Linked DNA regions of Homo sapiens: region 2 is linked to region 1. Evidence: fine-mapped expression QTL. A gene starts in region 1. The other region holds a variant in brackets. All regions are shown on one strand. Distances are between the middles of the regions. Region 1 holds the start of XKRX (XK related X-linked). Region 2 has its middle 10 kb from the start of NOX1.

Evidence for each region. PIP is the estimated chance that this variant, and not a neighbour inherited with it, causes the effect.
Region 2: its variant is the best candidate, but not a certain one, in a credible set for the expression of XKRX in lung (TOPMed, PIP 0.75).

Annotation. Positions count from the first base shown.
Region 1 is chrX:100,924,309-100,934,164 of GRCh38, reverse strand. XKRX (XK related X-linked) reads left to right here and starts at 5,248. Exons shown (of 3, transcript NM_212559.3): 1 at 5,248-6,195. The coding sequence starts at 5,861. RefSeq lists enhancers at 4,602-4,651, 5,845-7,044.
Region 2 is chrX:100,879,782-100,889,637 of GRCh38, reverse strand. It overlaps a transcript of XKRX not described here and the pseudogene HNRNPA1P27. Among named protein-coding and RNA genes, the nearest start is that of NOX1, 10 kb to the right of the region's middle. The variant C/A (reference allele first, on the strand shown) is at 5,659.

The DNA of each region.
Region 1 (9,856 bases):
ATACTAAGTGAAAGAAACCAGATACAAAAGGTCATATATGATCATATATTGTATGATTCTATCCAGAATAGACAAATATATTGAGATGGAAAGTGGATTCATGGTTGCCTAGTGCTGCGAGGAGTGGGGAATGGGGAATGAGTGCTTAATGGGTATGGGTTTCTTGGGGTGATGAAATGTTCCGGCACTAAGTTGTGGTAATGACTGCATGACTTTGTACTAAAACTACTAAATTGTACACTTTAAATGGGTGAATTGTATGGCATATGAGTTATTTCCAAATAAAGAGTATTATTTAAAAAATTAAATAATATCATTATATTCCCCTCCCTGACCCTTCTCTTCCACCAGGCAATATAAATAGAGCTTGCCAGCTGCCTGGCAACACCCAACATCCCAAATGCCATGCTGCATTATGTGGCAGCACTTCTTTCCCTTCAAGACTAATTTAGATGTCATTTCTAACCAGATTTGTTGAAGAAAAATGCTAGGGGTGAGGGCTGCAGGGAAGTTACTTCTGTTTTAACTCCAGGCCCAAATCCCAGCTATGGATGATACTGATGAGGGAGTGGCTCAGAACTAACAGGCAAGGGTCTTTGTTCTCAGGGAGTTTATAGCAAAAAGAAAAATAAGACCTAGATGATACGACTGATTTTGCATTCTGTTTTTTTTTTTTTTTTTTTTTTAGACGGAATCTCACCATCACCTAGGTTGGAGTGCAATGGCACAATCTCGGTTCACTGCAACCTCTACCTCCTGGGTTCAAGCGATTCTTGTGCCTCAGCCTCCGGAGTTGCTAGGATTACAGATGTGTGCCACCACACCTGGCTAATTTTTGTATTTTTAGTAGAAATGGGGTTTCACCATGTTGCCCAGTCTGGTCTTGAACTGCTGACCTCAGGTGATCTACCCACCTCGGCCTCCTAAAGTGCTGGGATTAACAGGTGTGAACCACTGCGCCTGGCTTTTTTTCTTTTTCTTTTTCTTTTTTTTTTTTGAGACAGAGTTGCTCTGTTGCCCAGGTTGGAGTGCAGTGGCACAGTCACAACTCACTGCAGCTTCAACCTCCCGGGCTCAAGCGATCCTCCCCACTTCAGCCTCCAGAGTAGCTAGGACTACAGGTGTGTGTCACCATGCCCAGCTAATTTTGTTTTTACTTTTTTGTAGAGACAGGGTCTCACTTTGTTGCCCAGGTTGGTCTCAAACTCCTGGGCTCAAGCAATCCTCCCACCTCAGTCTCCCAAAGCGCTGGGATTACAGGTGTGAGCCACCATGCCTGGCCTCTAGATATCTTTTAAGCATTCTAACAGCCCAAACTGAGCATTCTTTAGAGGGAAGCCATCTTCCATTCTGGCTATTGATTCTCTGGGCCTTGCCCATCACCTCCCACCAATAAGTGTTCTGTGACTGGACTGTCAGCCACTTGCTGCACATCTCTGTCCTTCCTCTCCTCTTTCCTCATGGATGCCACGCACCTCTTACACATCCATTCCTTGGAGGCTTTTGGGCAGTCTTCAGGCTGCAGAGGCTTGGAAAGCTCAACCCCATCCCTGAGCCTTATAGAGGGATTCTGAATGCTGATAAAGATGCCAAGAGCTTTTAGACCACATGGCTTTTAGATGCGCTCTTTGTTCCTGTTGAGTCAGTGGTTGGAAATAGAGTGGTAAGGAGTCAGATCTTGTTCTTCCCCTTTCTTGCAGAATTCTAGTGCTTCTCAGGAGGAGAAATTTATGCTTGAACACTACCTGGCATTCAGGAGGCAGCCTAGGTGTCACCTCAGATGACTAGTCTGTGGGAGATCAGTGCTTTTAATGGGACAGGGGTTCCTAGAGCCTCAGCAGCCTTATGACTGCCAACATTTCCAGCATCTTTAGTCCCAAGAAGAGTAAAGAGCTGGAATCTTGAGATGGCCTGAGAGAGCAAAGAGTGTTTGGACAGAAACAGCAAATTCTCAGTTAGCTACTCCCAGCAGGGCAAAGGAACGGGGAAATAAGAGACCAGAGGATTTAGTGACCTAAAGCGCCAGAGAATCCTAGGGCTGAAAATAGAGAAGTTGGTGGGTGAGGGTGATCAGATGACAGGAACTTTACAGGTCTATACCAGTCATGGGGGAGTCCAACAAAAGTACAGTAATAAGGGCTCTGCCCTCAAGGAGCCCGTGATAATTTAGTTGGGGAATAAAAATTAATATACTTGAAATAATTTTGGTGCTACACTCTGGTATAAACAAAAGAATGCTATAGAAATCCTTGAGAAGGGACAGATCATGTGGTCTGGGAACCTCTGTGAGCTGATGGCTGAATGAGACAGTGCTCATTCAGCCAGAGGAGTTTATGCCCCAGCTACAGTGGCCACAGCTTTTAGAGATGAGTGTGTCTGAGTCTTGCATGGTTTCAAGGAGGAAGTATGGGGGAGGAAGCGTCATCATCATCACCATTTGTCAATCACCATTGTCATCAACAAGTGCCACAATAAACAGTCATTGAGCATCCTTCCCTCACTAACTTTACATTTTTGGGGGGAGGCAGGACAAACACAGAAATAGTTGAAGGACTAGTATGAGAGAGCATGTGCCAGTAGCATGAAGAGAGAAAAATGAGGGTTGGGGAGGTGACAGAAGGCTTCTTGGAGGTGGGAGCACTTCGGCTGACCCTTGAAAGAAAGTTATGGTTTGGACTAATGGAGAAAAGGGTGAAGGGGGTTGTAAATCGCATCAACAAGGCAGAGGTGGGAGTGAGCAACGCAAATAGGAGAAGTGAGAAAACTGGCTGGCCTTGTGGAAGGAGTAGTGTGGGCAATAAAATCTGAGAGGGAAGTAGTGTGATGATTATATAGAGCCTTGAATGACAGACAGAAGGAGTCATTTTGGAACAAAGTAGGAAGGCATTGTAAATTTTTGTATTTGGGGAGAGACAAGGCCATGGAGAAGAAGGAGGAAAGGCTAAAAGGTAAACGTTGGGATTCTACATTCTTCTTCTTAGCTTTACTCTCCCATGTTTTTTTTTTTTTTTATTTTTAATTTTTATTTTTTTGAGATGGAGTTTCACTCTTGTCACCCAGGCTGGAGTGCAATGGTGCTATCTTGGCTCACTGCAACTTCTGCCTCCTGGGTTCAAGGGGTTGTCCTGCCTCAGCCTCCCGAGTAGCTGGGATTACAGGTGCCCACCACCACGCCCAGCTAATTTTTGAATTTTTAGTAGAGACAGGATTTCACCATGTTGGTCAGGCTGGTCTCAAACTCCTGATCTCAGGCCATTCACCCACCTTGGCCTCCCGAAATGCTGGGATTACAGGCATGAGCTACCGCGCCCGGCTGACTCTCTCATGTTTAGGGGGACCAACTCACCCTATCCCAGTGAAATGGGATTAATTGGTCACCTTGCCTGAGATTCACCTTGTGAACAGTTACCTAGAGCAGCCCCAAGAGGTTCTGCACCATATACTGGTGGTGGAGAACCTTGTCCCAGTTGGAATGTCCCAACTAATAAGAAAAAGAACACTCTCTGAAGTTGTTCTCAATAGTGTTGACCTCCTTCATGAAATGGAAAGGAGAAAGGAGCAGCCTCCTAGCCCAGCTGCTAGCATAGGTGCAGACCAAGATGCGGAGTCTGCTTCAGAAGGTGACAACCTTTAGATGTTGAATCTGTCCCTGAATCAGCCCTGGGGAAAGGAGGCAGCAATCATGGAAACCTTAAAAAAACAAAAAACAACATAATGACAGGACAACCTGGAGGCCATTATTTTGGTGGCTGCTACTTGGCCACTCCTCACATAGATTTGTTTTACTGACTTCCTGCAGCAAAAGGAGATTGGCACAGGCTCTGCTACATAATCATCATTATTATTATTATTATTATTATTATTATTATTATTATTAAGACGTAATCTTGCTCTGTTGCCCAGGCTGGAGTGCAGTGGCGTGATCTCAGCTCACTGCAACCTCTGCCGTCCGGGTTCAAGTTTTTCTCCTGCCTCAGCCTCCTGAGTAGCTGGGATTACAGTCACGCACCACCACGACCAGCTGATTTTTGTATTTTTAGTAGAGATGGGGTTTCACCACGTTGGCCAGGCTGGTTTCGAACTCCTGACCTCAAGTGATCTGCCTGCCTCAGCCTCCCAAAGTGCTGGGATTACAGGCGTGAACCACTGTGCCTGGCCTTCATCTATATTATTACCAGGAGGCAGATGTGTTCTCTTTTTCTCTGAGGTTTAGAATTATGCAAATGAAGATATGAAAACAAAAGCTCAGTGAGGTGGGGAGGATTACACTTAAGAATACAGGTAATTTTCAAAGCTCTTTAAGACACCCCTCTCAGTTTTTACTAACAGCTCTCTCTTGGCTCTTTGCCAGTCTGTTTAGAATTTGGCACCTCTTCATAACCTTTCAACCAAAGACCTGTAAGTTCATTCTAAAGCTCCTATCCTGGCCTCATTTTGCAAGTGGAGAAATCAAGGCATAAAATATGAGCTTTCAGTGTCTGTGGGCTGACCTTGAGTCTTGACCTTTATCCTGTTCTATCTTCCCTCCGCCGAAAACTCTGACCCTATTCCTCCCAGGTTCCCCCTTCATGATATTATCTGGAGGGCAATAGGACCTAGGGAGGTTCCACCCTGCGGCGGAGGGAGACACACCTGCCTAACAGCGTGGGTAGAGTGAGTGTTGAAGCAAGTCACTTAACTAGTTAGGGAGGGCGGGGTAGAAGTGGGGGCCTGCTGCTCCTAGGGAGGAGTAAAGCTGTGGCTCCTGCCTGGGTCTGGAGGTGGTGGTCAGAAGTGCTTCTGAAGAGCGGCCCAAGCCCCTTTTTGTCCCGCCACTCCACAACGAGCATCCCTCGGCTGGCCGCCTGCCCGGGAACTCTCCGGCTGGTTTTGTTTGGCCGCAGCCGTCCCGCCCATCTCGCCCGCCCCCGCCGTCCCGGTGCCTTAGTTTTTGAAGCTGCCGACCTCTCGCAGCTGGAATCGCAGACCAGGCAGGACCCTGGCAGCAGACGGCGTCCAAGAGTTTGGCGACCTCCGTCCAGCCAGGTTGGCGCCCCGCACATCGTGCCTCTCACTAGCAAAGTTTCTCCGAGGAGAAGCAGCCCCTCCAGCCTTTTCTTCATCCTGTAGAGCGAGCGCGCTCTGCTTCTGTCCCTCAACACTGCATTCGGAGACAGGGTGGTGACAATACTCCACTCCCGGGCCAGGCGGTCTTGGGGGCGGGGCTTGGGGGAATCCGAGGAGCTATCCTGAGAACCCTGGACTCGGCAAAGGTCCTGAGAGCGCGCAGGTGAGCGGGCCAGCTGATAGCTACAGCCTAGCAATAGCTAGGATACCTAGGCACTGAACTGAATCCCCTCTTCTGCCCTCCTTCTTCTGCGCCCGCTCTTCTGCCCTGGCTCAGCTCTCCGCTGACTTGAGAGGACACACTGGTCAGGACTCTTTGTGAGGAGCTGCTGAGTGTCGGTGCCCCCGACAGATCGGCTACACCCTGCCTGAGGGGCTGCGAAAGGAGCCGCCACGGAAGCCGCTGTTCTCATGACTCTTCACGTCCCTGGAGTTGGACTCTGGATGGGGCGCTGGGATGCTTGCTTTTGTCTTGTTCAAGTTTCACAGCAAGTATGTTGACGATTGGAATCGGGGCCAATCAAGAGTCAAGTTCAAAGTGGTACTCCTGGGCTTTCCATCCCAGACTCCAAGTCGAATCTGAGTCTAGAAGAGAGCGGTTTCTTGCTCTAACTAGTGAATCTCTGTTCCCAAACTGGACTTGACAGAGCTCTCCTCACCTATACTTGGACTGTAGCGGCCATAGGGTTCTCTTGGGGATGGGTGGGAGGGTGCTATGAACACAAGACCACAACATTCAGAAAGAACCTCGACAATGGACAGAGTTTATGAAATTCCTGAGGAGCCAAATGTGGATCCGGTTTCATCTCTGGAGGAAGATGTCATCCGTGGAGCCAACCCCCGATTTACTTTTCCATTTAGCATCCTTTTCTCCACCTTTTTGTACTGTGGGGAGGCTGCATCTGCTTTGTACATGGTTAGAATCTATCGAAAGAATAGTGAAACTTACTGGATGACATACACCTTTTCTTTCTTTATGTTTTCATCCATTATGGTCCAGTTGACCCTCATTTTTGTCCACAGAGATCTAGCCAAAGATAAACCGCTATCATTATTTATGCATCTAATCCTCTTGGGACCTGTTATCAGGTGAGCAACTTTTAAATCTTTTCCTTACCCCCCTAACCCCACCCCAGACTTGGGCAGAGAAAGATGAAAGATTTACAAGATGGATACTATGGCTCTAATCAATTCTCTCATTTCCTCCCACTCTCGGCTTCCCTGTCTACCATTCAGAAAACTTACCTGAAATCTTAAATGCCACCATGATGAACATGTGGTATGTACTTGTGTTCCAAAACAATGAACGATGCTATTTGGCCTGTGTAAACTAGAATGGGAACAACAAGACGTGATCACCCTGTGCATGAAGGCCATAGCTGCAGAGTGTGTAATTTTATTTAAAAAATTTTTTTTTTCTGAGACAAGGTCTTGCTCTGCCTCCCAGGCTACAGTGCAGTGGTGCGATCATGGCTCACTGCAGCCTTGATCTCCTGGGATCAAGCGAACCTCCCACCTCAGCCTCCAAGTAGCTGGGACCAAAGGAATGTGTCACCATGCCTGGTTAATTAAAAAAAAATTTTTATAGGCCGGGTGTGGTGGCTCATGCCTGTAATCCCAGCACTTTGGGAGGCTGAGGCGGGTGGATCACCTGAGGTCAGGAGTTCAAGACCAGCTGGCCAACATGGTGAAACCCCTGTCTCTACTAAAAATCAGCTGGGTGTGGTGGCGCATATCTGTAATCCCAGCTACTCTGGTGGCTGAGGCAGGAGAATCACTTGAACCCGGAAGGTAGAGGTTGCAGTGAGCCAAGATCGGTGCCACTGCACTCCAGCCTGGGCGATAGAGTGAGACTCCATCTCAAAAAAAAAAAAATTTTTTTTGTAGAGACGGGATCTCGTTATGTAGACTGGGCTCAAGTGATCTTCCTGCCTCAGCCTCCCAAAGTGAGCCACCGCGCCTGGTCTGAGTGTGTAATTTTGACTCTACCTTTTGGATGCTTTGTAAATTGGATAAAAGTTTCTTTACCCTGAGCTGCTTGGGCTGGTGCTACTGCCATTTTCAAATTTTCCAGAGTAATGTGACATCTGGAAACTATTTTAAACCATCTGTGGTAATCTGTACCCCAACCCAATATAGTTCAGTTCTCTGTCGGTTTATCAGTTTCCTATTTATCTCTTTGTATATTTCTGCAATAAAGATACGAAGTTGGGAGGGGGCAAAGGAAGGCAGTTCATCTCTCTATGTGGATGCAGTAGCACAATTTAATAGTATCAAGTATTTCCATTCAGATTGCCTTGAAGTGGAAAGAATGCACTTAATCCTAGCGAGATAGGCACCTGTGTCAACAGTCTCATCTGGATGCTATGGGGTTTTCAAGGTAGAGAGATGTTGCAAAACTTATGAGTTCAGGAGTAAGGAATGGACCAAGTTTGTCTTGATTGCAAGAGAGGCAGACAACTGCAGTCAGCCGAGGAATATGGGTCAGAGTGTTGCAATGGGAAGATACCTCATCATTAGACAACTAAAAAGTCTGTGAAACTAATTAAGGATGGAACTCACTCCTTTATAAAATTTCATATCTGTACACATGTATAATTTTTATTTGTCACTTATACCTCAATAAGGCCAAAAAAATTTTTTATCAATAAATTTTTAAGTGGGGAGGAATCGATTAGGCTCTATCAGAGAGAATATGGGATATCAATGGAAACAGTGGCCTGAAATTTGGAGTCTAGTCTTCCCCCTGTCATTGACTGGTTGTGTGTTCTTGGTAAAATCTCTGAAGATGGCTTCACAGGAAGGCATATAGAGTTCCCTCATCTGTAAAGCAAATGGGTTAGTCTAAATCATGGGTCTCAAACTCAAACACTTGCAGGGACCAGGCAGGTATCATAAATGAATGAAGCAGGCCTAGTATAAGAAAAAACAGTAGCCTTGTGTGAGATGATAAATGAAAACAAAGTCTCAGAGAAATACTGAGGAGTAGTGAGTACCATGGTAATCTGAAATCTTCATGACCTGCCTGAAGGAGGTAGCCCCTCTAGAGCCCTGGCGCATTGTTTCCATGTTGGAATTCAGACCCAGTATTGCCAGATCCACTAACTTTTCGGGAGATGCTCCCAAGACAGGATTTTTATATGAAATGTCATGATTTTAAATTTTCACAGCTGACTAAAACAATAACAACAACAACACAGGATGGACCAAACCATATCTGTTGGTCAGATATAACTCAGCTGGCCTATATGCATCTTTGGACTGGGTGATGTAAAGGTCCTTTACGGTTCTAAATCTTTGAAGTTAAGCTGTAAAAGGAAGACCTCATCTTGACCTTGAAACCAAGAAATTTAAAGTTGTGACTACAGGAGCAAATAAACCATTCATCCCTCCTTTTTCAAATACAATATATTGAGTTAACCAATCGAAAACTCTCAAGATACAAATTTCAGAAAGTACCCAGCTGCACCCTCCCCTCTTTTTGACTTCCTTTGTTTGCTTTGTGAACCCTCTGTGTAGAGTGTTGAGTACTGTTTTTCATTTTTGTTGTTTAGCTTCCACTAGAAATGATTGGGAAGCATTTATAACCTCAGGCAGCTTAGCCCACAGCAGAGAAAAGATAAAAACTCATAAATTATACTCTGGATTCGCTTATTTTCAAGGCCAATTACTTGTTAGATAGGTAGGAACTTGATTAGTGTTATCAGGCACATGAAGGTGCTTGTAGAGTCTGGGTGCCTTACATGAAATGCAAGCATACTTCCGAAATGAAAATGTACTCTAATTTATTGAAGCTTATAAATGGACAAACACCCTTACTTAAACCAGAAAATAGCCCTGAGAATAGAAACAGAACATTTATGTAAATGTAAACGGAACATTTCATGCCACCACCTTCTCCAATACTGTTCTCCAATTTAGCAATAGTACTGATGGGTTGGGGTTAAAATCTAAAATTTTTCATTGAAAATGCACTTATGCAGAACAAGAATAGGAAAAAAGTGTTGCTTTTTCTTCTCTGTTCTTTCTTTGCATCTTTTTCTTTCCCAGGTCTTAGAGTTTGTCCCTAGAAGGTGACAATTTCAAACTACATGCTTCAGAGTGGTACACATGCATCAGTCTTAGGGTGATCTATGGAGACTGGCAGCCAGCATATGTTCCAAATTTTCCTATCAGGAACTAAAGGCTAGAGAGCATATCAACCTCTGGGCTTGTCTTTGGTCTACTTTTCTGTTAAATTTCATTGCTGTTATTATTATCCTCTCCTCCCATAATTGCTTACCCTGTATTATTTTCTTCCTTCTTATTCTTTCATTTACTCAGCAAATATTTCTCAAATACCTACTAAGTGATAAGAGCTGTAAACAAGATAAATACAACCCTTGACCTCAGTCTCTTGGGCAAGACGTGTTAATGTCCACTACAAATGTTCTTACTAGTCATAAGTAGTCCACAGTTTTTATTCATTAAAGGTGAGTGGCGAAGTGGTAACTCAGGTGTTCCAGAACAAGATGTTCTAGTTGCTTCTCTTCCACTTACCACATCAGAACTGCTAAAGACTTCTGATTTGTATGGGGGAGGTGGGAGGGGCAGAGCAGGAAATGTCATCTTACCCTTATTCCAAGGATGATAGGCTTTCATAAGGATGTTTTTCTCTTCGTAAAGAAAGAATCCAGTTTAAAAGGCTTTTGTCCACAAACAGGACAAGAGGCACAAAAAGTAACTATTACAGTGATCTTTCGAGGGCCTA
Region 2 (9,856 bases), 45 kb after region 1:
CATTCCTTGGCTTATAGAAGCATCACCCTGATCTCTACCTTCATCTTTATATGGTGTTCTCCCCATGTGCATGTTTGCATTCAAACATTCCCCCTGTTTTTAGCCAGGCACAGTGCCTCACATCTGTAATCATGGCTACTCGCAAGGCTGACGCAGGAAGATTGCTTGAGGCTAGGAGTTCGAGACCAGTCTGGATGATCTAGGAAGACCCTGTCTCTGAAAAAATTTAAAAAAATAAATAAATAAATAAGTAAAAAAAACTTGCCCCCTTTTTATAAGGACACAGTCATATTGGATTAGGAGCCTACCCTACTCCAGTATGACCTCATCTTAACTAATTACATCTATAAGGTACCTATTTTCTTTTTTCTTTTTCTTTTTCTTTTTTTTTTTTTTTTGAGATAGAGTCTTGCTCTGTCACCCAGGCTGTAGTGCAGTGGTGCGATCTCAGCTCACTGCAGCCTCCACCTCCCGGGTTCAAGCAATTCCTGTGTCTCAGCCTTCCTAGTAGCTGGGACTACAGGCACGCACCACCATGCCCGGCTAATTTTTGTATTTTTAGTAGAGATGGGGTTTCACCATGTTGGCCATGACTGGTCTCGAACTCCTGACCTCACTTGATCAGCCCACCTCAACCTCCCATAGTGCTAGGATCACAGGCATGAGCCACTGCACCCAGCCAGTTCCCTATTTTCAAATAAGGTCATATTCTAGGGCACTAGAGGTTATGTCTTCAACATATGAATTTTTGGGGAGACACAATTCAACATATAACTCTTGCCTTCTTGCTGTTCCTCTAGCACACTAAGCTGATTTTCATTTCAGGTCCTTTGTACATGGCAAGTCTTTCTGTCTAGAACCCTAAAGAAGCCTGGCTGTTCCCGTCTCAGCATACACATGTTATCTCATATGCCACCTTCTCAAAAAGGACTTCCCTGATCACTCTATTTAAAATAGCCTCTCCAGATACGTTTGTCAGCTTGCTCCTTTCTGCCTGTGGATGCCAACAAAGAAGCATCATTAAAGTCTCTCTTCTCCCTTCCGTCGTGTCTAAGTCAGAGTCTCCTAAAGAGCCCGAATAGCTGAGGAAGCTCTTCATTGGAGAGTTGAGGTTTGAAACAACCGACGAGAGCCTGAGGAGCCATTTTGAGCGATGGGGAATGCTCACAGACTGTGCGGTAATGAGAGATCCAAACACCAAGCGCTCCAGGGGCTTTGGGTTTGTTACATACGCCACTGTGGAGGAGGTGGATGCAGCCACGAATGCAAGGCCACACAAGGTGGATGGAAAAGTTGTGGAACCAAGGAGAACTGTCTCAAGAGAAGATTATCAAAGATCAGGTGCCCACTTAACTGTGAAAAAGATATTTGTTGGTGGCATTAAAGAAAACACTGAAAAACATCAGCTAAGAGATTATTTTGAACAGCATGGAAAAATGGAAGTGATTGAAATCATGACTGAGGCAGTGGCAAGAAAAGGGGCTTTGCCTTTGTAACCTTTGACGACCATGACTCCATGGATAAGATTGTCATTCCGAAATACCATACTGTGAATGGCCACAACTGTGAAGTTAGGAAAGCCCTGTCAAAGCAAGAGATGGCTAGTGCTTCTTCCAGCCAAAGAGGTCAAAGTGGTTCTGGAAACTTTGGTGGTGGTTGTGGAGGTGGTTTCTGTGGGAATGACAACTTTGGTCATGGAGGAAACGTCAGTGGTCGTGGTGGCTTTGGTGGCAGCCATGGTGGTGGTGGATATGGTGGCAGTGGGGATGGCTATAATGGATTTGGTAATGATGGAAGCAATTTGGAGGTGGTGGAAGCTACAATGATTTTGGCAATTACAACAGTCAGTCTTCAAATTTTGGACCCGTGAAGGGAGGAAACTTTGGGGCAGAAGCTCTGGCCCCTATGGTGGCGGAGGCCAATACTTTGCCAAACCACCAAACCACAGTGGCTATGGTGGTTCCAGTAGCAGCAGTAGCTATGGCAGTGGCAGAAGATGTTAATTAGGAAACAGAGCTTAGCAGGAGAGGAGAGCCAGAGAAGTGACAGGGAAGCTGCAGTTTACAACAGATTCGTGAACTCAGCCAAGCACAGTGGTGACAGGGCCTAGCTGCTACAAAGAAGACATATTTTAGACAAATATTCATGTGTATGGGCAAAAAACTTGAGGACTGTATTTGTGACTAATTGTATAACAGGTTATTTTAGTTTCTGTTCTGTGGAAAGTGTAAAGCATTTCAACAAAGGGTTTTAATGTAGATTTTTTTCCTTGCACCCATGTTGTTGATTGCTAAATGTAATAGTCTGATCGTGACGCTGAATAAATGTCTTTTTTTTTTTAATGTGCTGTGTAAAGTTAGTCTACTCTGAAGCCATCTTGGTAAATTTCCCCAGCAGTGTGAAGTTGGAATTCCTTCAGGGTGATGCCAGGTTCTATTTGGAATTTACATACAACCTGCTTGGGTGGAGAAGCCATTGTCTTCAGAAACCTTGGTGTAATTGAATTGATAGTTACTGTTGTGACCTGAAGTTCACCATTAAAAGGGACTACCCAAGCAAAATCATGGAATTATTGGTTATAAAAATGATTGTTGGCACATCCTATGCAATATATCTAAATTGAATAATGGTACCAGATAAAATTATAGATGGGAATGAAGCTTGTGTATCATCCATTATCATGTGTAATCAATAAACAATTTAATTCTCTTGAATGAAATGACAACTCTATGGATTTGGGAATGGCAGAGATTTGGACTTTCCTTACCCACTACCCCTGATTATGTTGAATGCTTCTATCACAATTCAAGTTCAAAGCTCTGCCAGGAATAGAAACTAGCTGCTGGCTAATGCTGCTCCATAAACCCACAGATTTGAAGTGTTTGGGCGGCCTTTTAAAAATGACCATATCAGAAAGCATTTTAATGAGCATAAAGATAGGCTTCCATTAAAGGAGAAAAATAAAATAGCCTCTCTACCTCACACACATCATTCCCTACTCCCTTTCCTGTTTCAGTTTTCTTCATAGCACTCATTACTACCTGAAATACTTTTATTTTCAGTTGTTTTTATCTGTCCCTCCCACCAGAATATAAGTTCCTTGAGGACAAGAAACTTGTTTGTCTTACTTACTTCTGTATCATTAGCTCCTAACATAATGCCTGTTCAAAATTAAATATTTAATAAATGTTGAATGAACATTGAATGAACACTCACTTTGTTCTCCAATTGAGTCTCTAAAAAATCCAGTAGAATCAAGTTTCCACTGAGAAAATACAGCTTATTTCAAACTCCTAAAGACATTCATTTTCCCCCTTTGAAATAAACTACACCTATCTAAGAGACCAATTATAAAACAATAAAATACTCCTCTCTCCCACAGTTGCCTTTTTTCTCTCTTCTTGTACTACCAGGAAACTACTTAATGGTAGCAAAAATCAGAGTGAAGAGAGGTTAGTTCCAAGACAGAAACACATTGTCAATCTTTACTCAAAGATTGTCCATCACCTGCTCTCTCTCCAGCCTAGCTAGCTCTTTTCAGGCCCGATAGGCACACATTAATGGGCCTGGCTGGACCACCTATGAGACAGAAAAGGGTGATCCCTTCCATTAGATTAACAGGCTCAGAAAAGACTAGGGAACTAAGCTGACTCCTTTTTTTTTTTTTTTTTTTTTTTTGAGGCGGAGTCTGGCTCTGTCACCCAGGCCTAAGTGCAGTGGTGCGATCTCAGCTCATTGCAACTTCCACCTCCCAGGTTCAAGCAATTCTCGAGCCTCAGCCTCCCGAGTAGCTGGGACTACAGGGACTACAGGTATTAACCACGTCTGGCTAATTTTTGTATTTTTAGTAGAGACAGGGTTTCACCATGTTAGCCAGGCTGATCATGAACTCCTGACCTCAGGTCAGCCACCCGCCTTGACCTCCCCAAAGTGCTGGAATTATAGGCGTGAGCCACTGCACACAGCCTAAGCTGATTTCCTCTTCTTCTTTTTTTTTTTTTTTTGAGACGGAGTCTTGTTCTGTCACGCAGGCTGGAGTGCAATGGCATAATCTCGGCTTACTGCAACCTCCACCCCCTGGGTTCAAGCGATTCTCCTGCCTCAGCCTCCTGAGTAGCTGAGATCACAGGCGTGCCACCACCATGCCCAGCTAATTTTTATATTTTTAGTAGAGGCGGGGTTTCACCATGTTGGCCAGGCAGGTCTTGAACTCCTGACCTCGTGATCCGCCCACCTCGGCCTCCCAAAGTGCTGGGATTACAGGTGTGAGCCACCCCACCCAGCCCTAAACTGACTTCTAGCTGAGATTTCTGAATGTAAGAGCTTTAAGTCAGAGCAATGGCTGTTTTGTTCCTCAGAGGTTTTTCAAAAGAGAATTGTCCACTTCGAGTTCTGACCTGCCTGAAAATTGAGTGGTGAACCTAATGACCTCCTGCCTGCTGCCTCCCAGCTCTTATATGACTTATGACAATTACTAAGACAAATTGATATCTAAACAAAGTCTCTTGGGGATTTTTTGATTATTGTTTGCTTTCATATCTTCTGAATGATCAAAAGAGGACTCTAACAGGAACCTTTGATGTTTATCCAAGTAAATTCAGGTTTTTCCTGCAATAACGAAAGTAAGCTTGTTTGTGGTTTGTGAAGATTTAAGCAAAGGAGGAGAGAAAAGTTGATTTTTAAAAACTGTTTCTTAAAAGACAAATCTTTAAATGAACACAAGAAAGAATTTAATTTAACAATTTTCTGAGATCAGGTTCCAACTTTTTTCTATTTAATCTTTTTCCAAACCTGCTTAAGTCAGTAGTTTTTAAGCCCTTGTGAGTTGCAGACACCTTAGGACAAAGCATCTCAAATTTAATATGGGTATGAACCACCTGGTGGTCCTACTAAAATGAAAATTCTGATTCAGTAGGTCAGGGGAGGGCATTGTTGGATGGATCAAATGCATCTCCAAGCTTCCCCACTTGGGCACCCACTTTGGCTTCAGCCCACCTCCAAATGCCCAATGCACTCCTGTTTTTCAAAGTCCACTGCTGCAGTATCCCATTCTAACTATTAATTCTTGTCAGATGCCCCTGCTACAAATCTTTCTGTTTTTACCTCACCTTCAAGTTTACCTCTCTTAGGTGTGTTTCTCTCTGGACCCTACTCTCAGTGAAAATATAATGAGCAACAGGTGATCGTGGGTTGATGAGTTATTTCTCTTTCTCCCTTGGACAGAAGACCAAGTCCACTCATCCCTCCACCACCACAAGGTAACAATGGAATTTAACTATAGCTTTCAGGAACAAAGCTTTTCTCAAAGGAAAAATTCCAAATGGTAAAATTTTTCTGCCTTATAACACACTAATGGAAAGGCTATTTTTTAGTGGTTTGGAGAGGAGGAATAGAATTTCTAATTTCTCAGAAAAAAAAATCCATACAACCTACTTAGATAACTGCCAATCTGACCTGCTTACACTCTGCTCTGCCTCTCATCTGCTCTGGTCCCATTAAAAGCAACATTGTCTTATTTTAGAAATGGAACCATGAAACTGTTAAACGACCAGTTATTTCATGGTTATGTCCAAAGTGGTTGAAATTCCAAAGTAAGGGAAGCAACCAATTTATCTTTTTATTTTCTTTTTTCTTTTTTTTTTTTTTTTACTGAGAGAC[C/A]TTGATGACCCATGGTTAAGAGCTTCAAAGCAGCGTCCAAAGTCTTAACCATGAAAATATTTTTCTTAACTGCAAAGAGGGCTCAGTCTTCACAATTCAAATTGTCTCATCTTGTACTCTCCGGAAGGGAGGGCAAATATTTGCATTCTGTTCTGGGAGAGGTCCCTTCCGCTAAGAATGTGTTAAGTGCTCCTAATACAACAAAGGAAAAGGATTTTTTTTTAAAGCAGTTGCATTTCCTTATTTAAAAGGCCAATCATTTACACACTGCTTTACTTGCAACCGAAATAGTTCCAATGCATTTATCCACAGCACATTATGCTGATGGTAGGGACTGTACATTGTCAACCTTTAGCTCTGAAAACTTGTGACTTTATCTTCTTCTTCTTTTTTTTTTTTCTCGAGACGGAGTCTCGCTTTGTCACCCAGGCTGGAGTGCAGTGGCGTGATCTCAGCTCACTGCAACCTCCGCCTCCAGGGCTCAAGCAATTCTCCTGCCTCAGTCTCCCAGGTAGTTAGCTGGGATTACAGGTGCCCGCCACCATGCCTGGCTAATTTTTTGTGTTTTTAGTAGAGATGGGGTTTCACCACGTTGGCCAGGCTGGTCTCAAACTCCTGAGCTCAAGTGACTCGCCCGCCTCGGCCTCCCAAAATGCTGGGATTACAGGTGTGAGCCACTGCACCCGGCTTATCTTCTTTCCCAGGCAGAGTAGTCAGTTCAGAGCCAGTAAATATGGTTGCAGGAAAGTCTTTTCTTTACCATCTGTATTACTTTCCTATTGCTGCTATAACAAATTACTATAAACTTGGTGGCTTAAAGCAACACACACTTATTATCTTATGGTTCTGGTTGTCATAATTCTGCATTGGGTCTCACTGGGTTAAAATCAAGGTGCTGACAGGGCTGCATTCCTTTCTGGAGGCTCTGGGGGAGAAGTTCCAGCCCACATTCCTTGGCTCCTGGCTTCCTTTCTCTATCTTCAAAGTCAGTAAGAGTGGGTCATGTTCTCATATCTCATCACTCTGACTTCTGTGTCCCTCTTCCATTTTTAAGGATCCTTGTGATTACATTAGGCCACCCATAGAATCCATAATAATCTCCCTGCTTTGGGGTCAGCTGATTAGCAACCTTAATTCCACCTTCATTCCCCTTTGCCATGCAAGGTAACGTATTCACAGGCTTAGGATGTGGACATCTTTAGGGGGCTATTATTCTGCCTACCACACCATCACATGACAAATGTTTATTGAACATCTACTGTGCATAGAGAGCTTTGTGCTCTGCCTTAAGGAGCAATCTGGATAAGATAGGACTTGCTCAGAAAAGGGTAAATAACAATGGGAGGTTTCACAGGCTATGAGAGAGGTAAGAAGATGAGGAACTCATGCTATGTCATGCTATAAAAATTGGAAGACAGTGTGGTATGATGACTGAGGTGGTCAGAGAAGACTTCCTGGAAGAGGCAGAGCTTAATCGGTCTTCAAGAAAAGGCAAGAGTTGAATATTGTTTCTGAGCTGAATAAGTCTCACATATACACTTTTGAGGGCAGATTTCCAAAGTAGCAGATGTAACATGAAAGTACTCATTGCTATTCTAGTGATGTCTCCATGATACTTACTGGCCTAAAAATCACTGTTATACATACCAGCTCATTTGATGCTCACCACAGCCCTGTGATGGAAGTAGGGAGAACAGGGAACTACATAAACCTTTCCATCATTGAGTCCCCAGGCCCCTTTCCAGGCCTAGGGCCACCCCCAGTGTTCTTTCTTCCTTATGGCCATGGGGATACCACCTGTTTTCTTCTTTGGTAATTACTCCCCAAGCCTAGCTGCAGAATGAGACACAAACTCTGCACCTTCCCAGTTTCTTGCTACTATTGAAGCCAAGCACACAGGCTCATTTAAAATTTGCTAAACTCTGGAGAAAACAGGGTAAAACCGACGGACATAAGGTAGTGACAAAAGTTTCATAATCTTACAAAGTTTGTATAATAATGGTCTCTGATCTATAGTTTCTGCTCCCCTTTTCAATAGCAAAAGAAAGTACCATTGAGTTTAGGTCCTCTGCTTATATTTTCTTAGGGCTCATCATCATCATCATTATTATAGCAAGCAACTATGGAGTGCTTTTTATATGTCAGGCAGTGTTCTCATTGCTTTCCATACTTTAACTCATTTAATTCTTATAACAACCCATTTTATGGATAATGAGGCAGGCTTCAAACCTAGGTAGACTGGCTCTGGAATCTATATCTAACCAGTACACCATACTGCTCTACCATCTCTTCCGTACCACCACTTTGCCTTCTGCCTATCAATATAGGCTACAATTTGAACACTTTCTCCATGAGGGATCAGTACGCTAGGTTACAGATGAAGAAACTGAGGCTGAGCAAAGTTAGACTTTTCCAAGGGAGCATTAATAGTGAGTGGGGAGCTGGAGGTCAAATCCAGCTCCATCATACCATATTGCCTTTACAAGGTGCTACTTTGGTGAGGTCTGGTTCTGCTCCAACATAGTAAAAAGAATTGATTTCAAATAATTCCACATGTATCAGTCCCTCTTATCATTATGGGATGTTTCATTTTTGGACGCTGTAATCAAGACCAAATTAATACCTTTAAAGGCTCTAAGATTTAAAAGAAACAAATGGGCCAGGCGCGGTGGCTTACGCCTGTAATCCCAGCACTTTGGGAGGCCGAGGCGGGTGGATCACGAGGTCAGGAGATCGACACCACAGTGAAACCCCGTCTCCACTAAAAATGCAAAAAAAATTAGCCGGGCGCGGTGGCGGGCGCCTGTAGTCCCAGCTACTGGGGAGGCTGAGGCAGCAGAATGGCGTGAACCCGGGAAGCGGAGCTTGCAGTGAGCCGAGATCGCGCCACTGCACTCCAGCCTGGGCAACAGAGCAAGACTCCGTCTTAAAAAAAATAAAATTAAAATAAGTAAATAAATAAATAAATAAACGAATGTCCTCCCAACACCATCCTCTATGGATTCAAATTAAACGTAATTATAAACAATAAAATAAGTAAAACAAACTATCATTTTCCCCATGACTACTTAAATTTTTGTTTTTGAAAACCAACCATCAAATTCTTTTATAAATTCTTAAAATAATTCTCAAAACAATTTTTTCTGATGTCCTAAGCACATGTTTAAACTGTTAAGTAATTCAACACTCTCTGTTATATATTAATTCCTGGAAGAGGTGTACAAGAGTTGTAACTGTAAAGGCAAATTTGGGACAAATGAGGACAGACACAAGTGATCAGGGAGAAGACACAACATGCAGGTCAGGTAAGGGCTTTGTGTTTACAGTTTGCAAGAATCCACCTACCATGGGTGGGATCAACCGTCTACAGGAAATCTTTCCAAAAGACTGCAGTCTATGGTAAAACTGTGAATAAGTTACTGATGACATTTAAGTACTCCCTAGAGATCTCCAGGAAGCAACCTCAAATTTAGTCAATGCCGCATAATCCATAAACCTGGGAAATGCAAACATTAAGACAGGTGAAGCAATACAGGGTGGAGGGGACTATTATAATGTCTAGAGCCAACAGAAGGAAAGCAATTCTGGGAGAATTTACAAAAAAGGGAGGTTGATGGTGAGAAGTTTTGTTTATTTATTTTAACTTATTTTTATTTTACTTTAAGTTCTGGGATACATGTGCTGAACGTGCAGGTTTGTTACATAGGTATACATGTGCCATGGTGGTTTGCTGCACCTATCAACCCATAATCTAGTTTTTAAGCCCTGCATGCATTAGGTATTTGTCCTCATGCTCTCCCTCCCCTTGCCTGCCACCCCCCAACAGGCCCCAGTGTGTGATGTTCCCCTCCCTGTGCCCATGTGTTCTCATTGTTCAACTCCCACTTATGAGTGAGAACATGCAGTGTTTGGTTTTCTGTTCCTGTGTTAGTTTGCTGAGGATGATGGTTTCCAGCTTCATCCATGTCCCTGCAAAGGACATGAACTCATTCTTTTTTATGACTGCATACTATTCCATGGTATATATGTGCCACATTTTCTTTATCCAGTCTATTATTAATGGGCATTTGGGTTGGTTCCAAGTCTTTGCTATTGTAAATAGTGCTGCAGTAAACACACACGTGCATGTGTCTTTATAGTAGAATGATTTCTAATCCTTTGGGTATATACCCAGTAATGGGATTGCTGGGTCAAATGG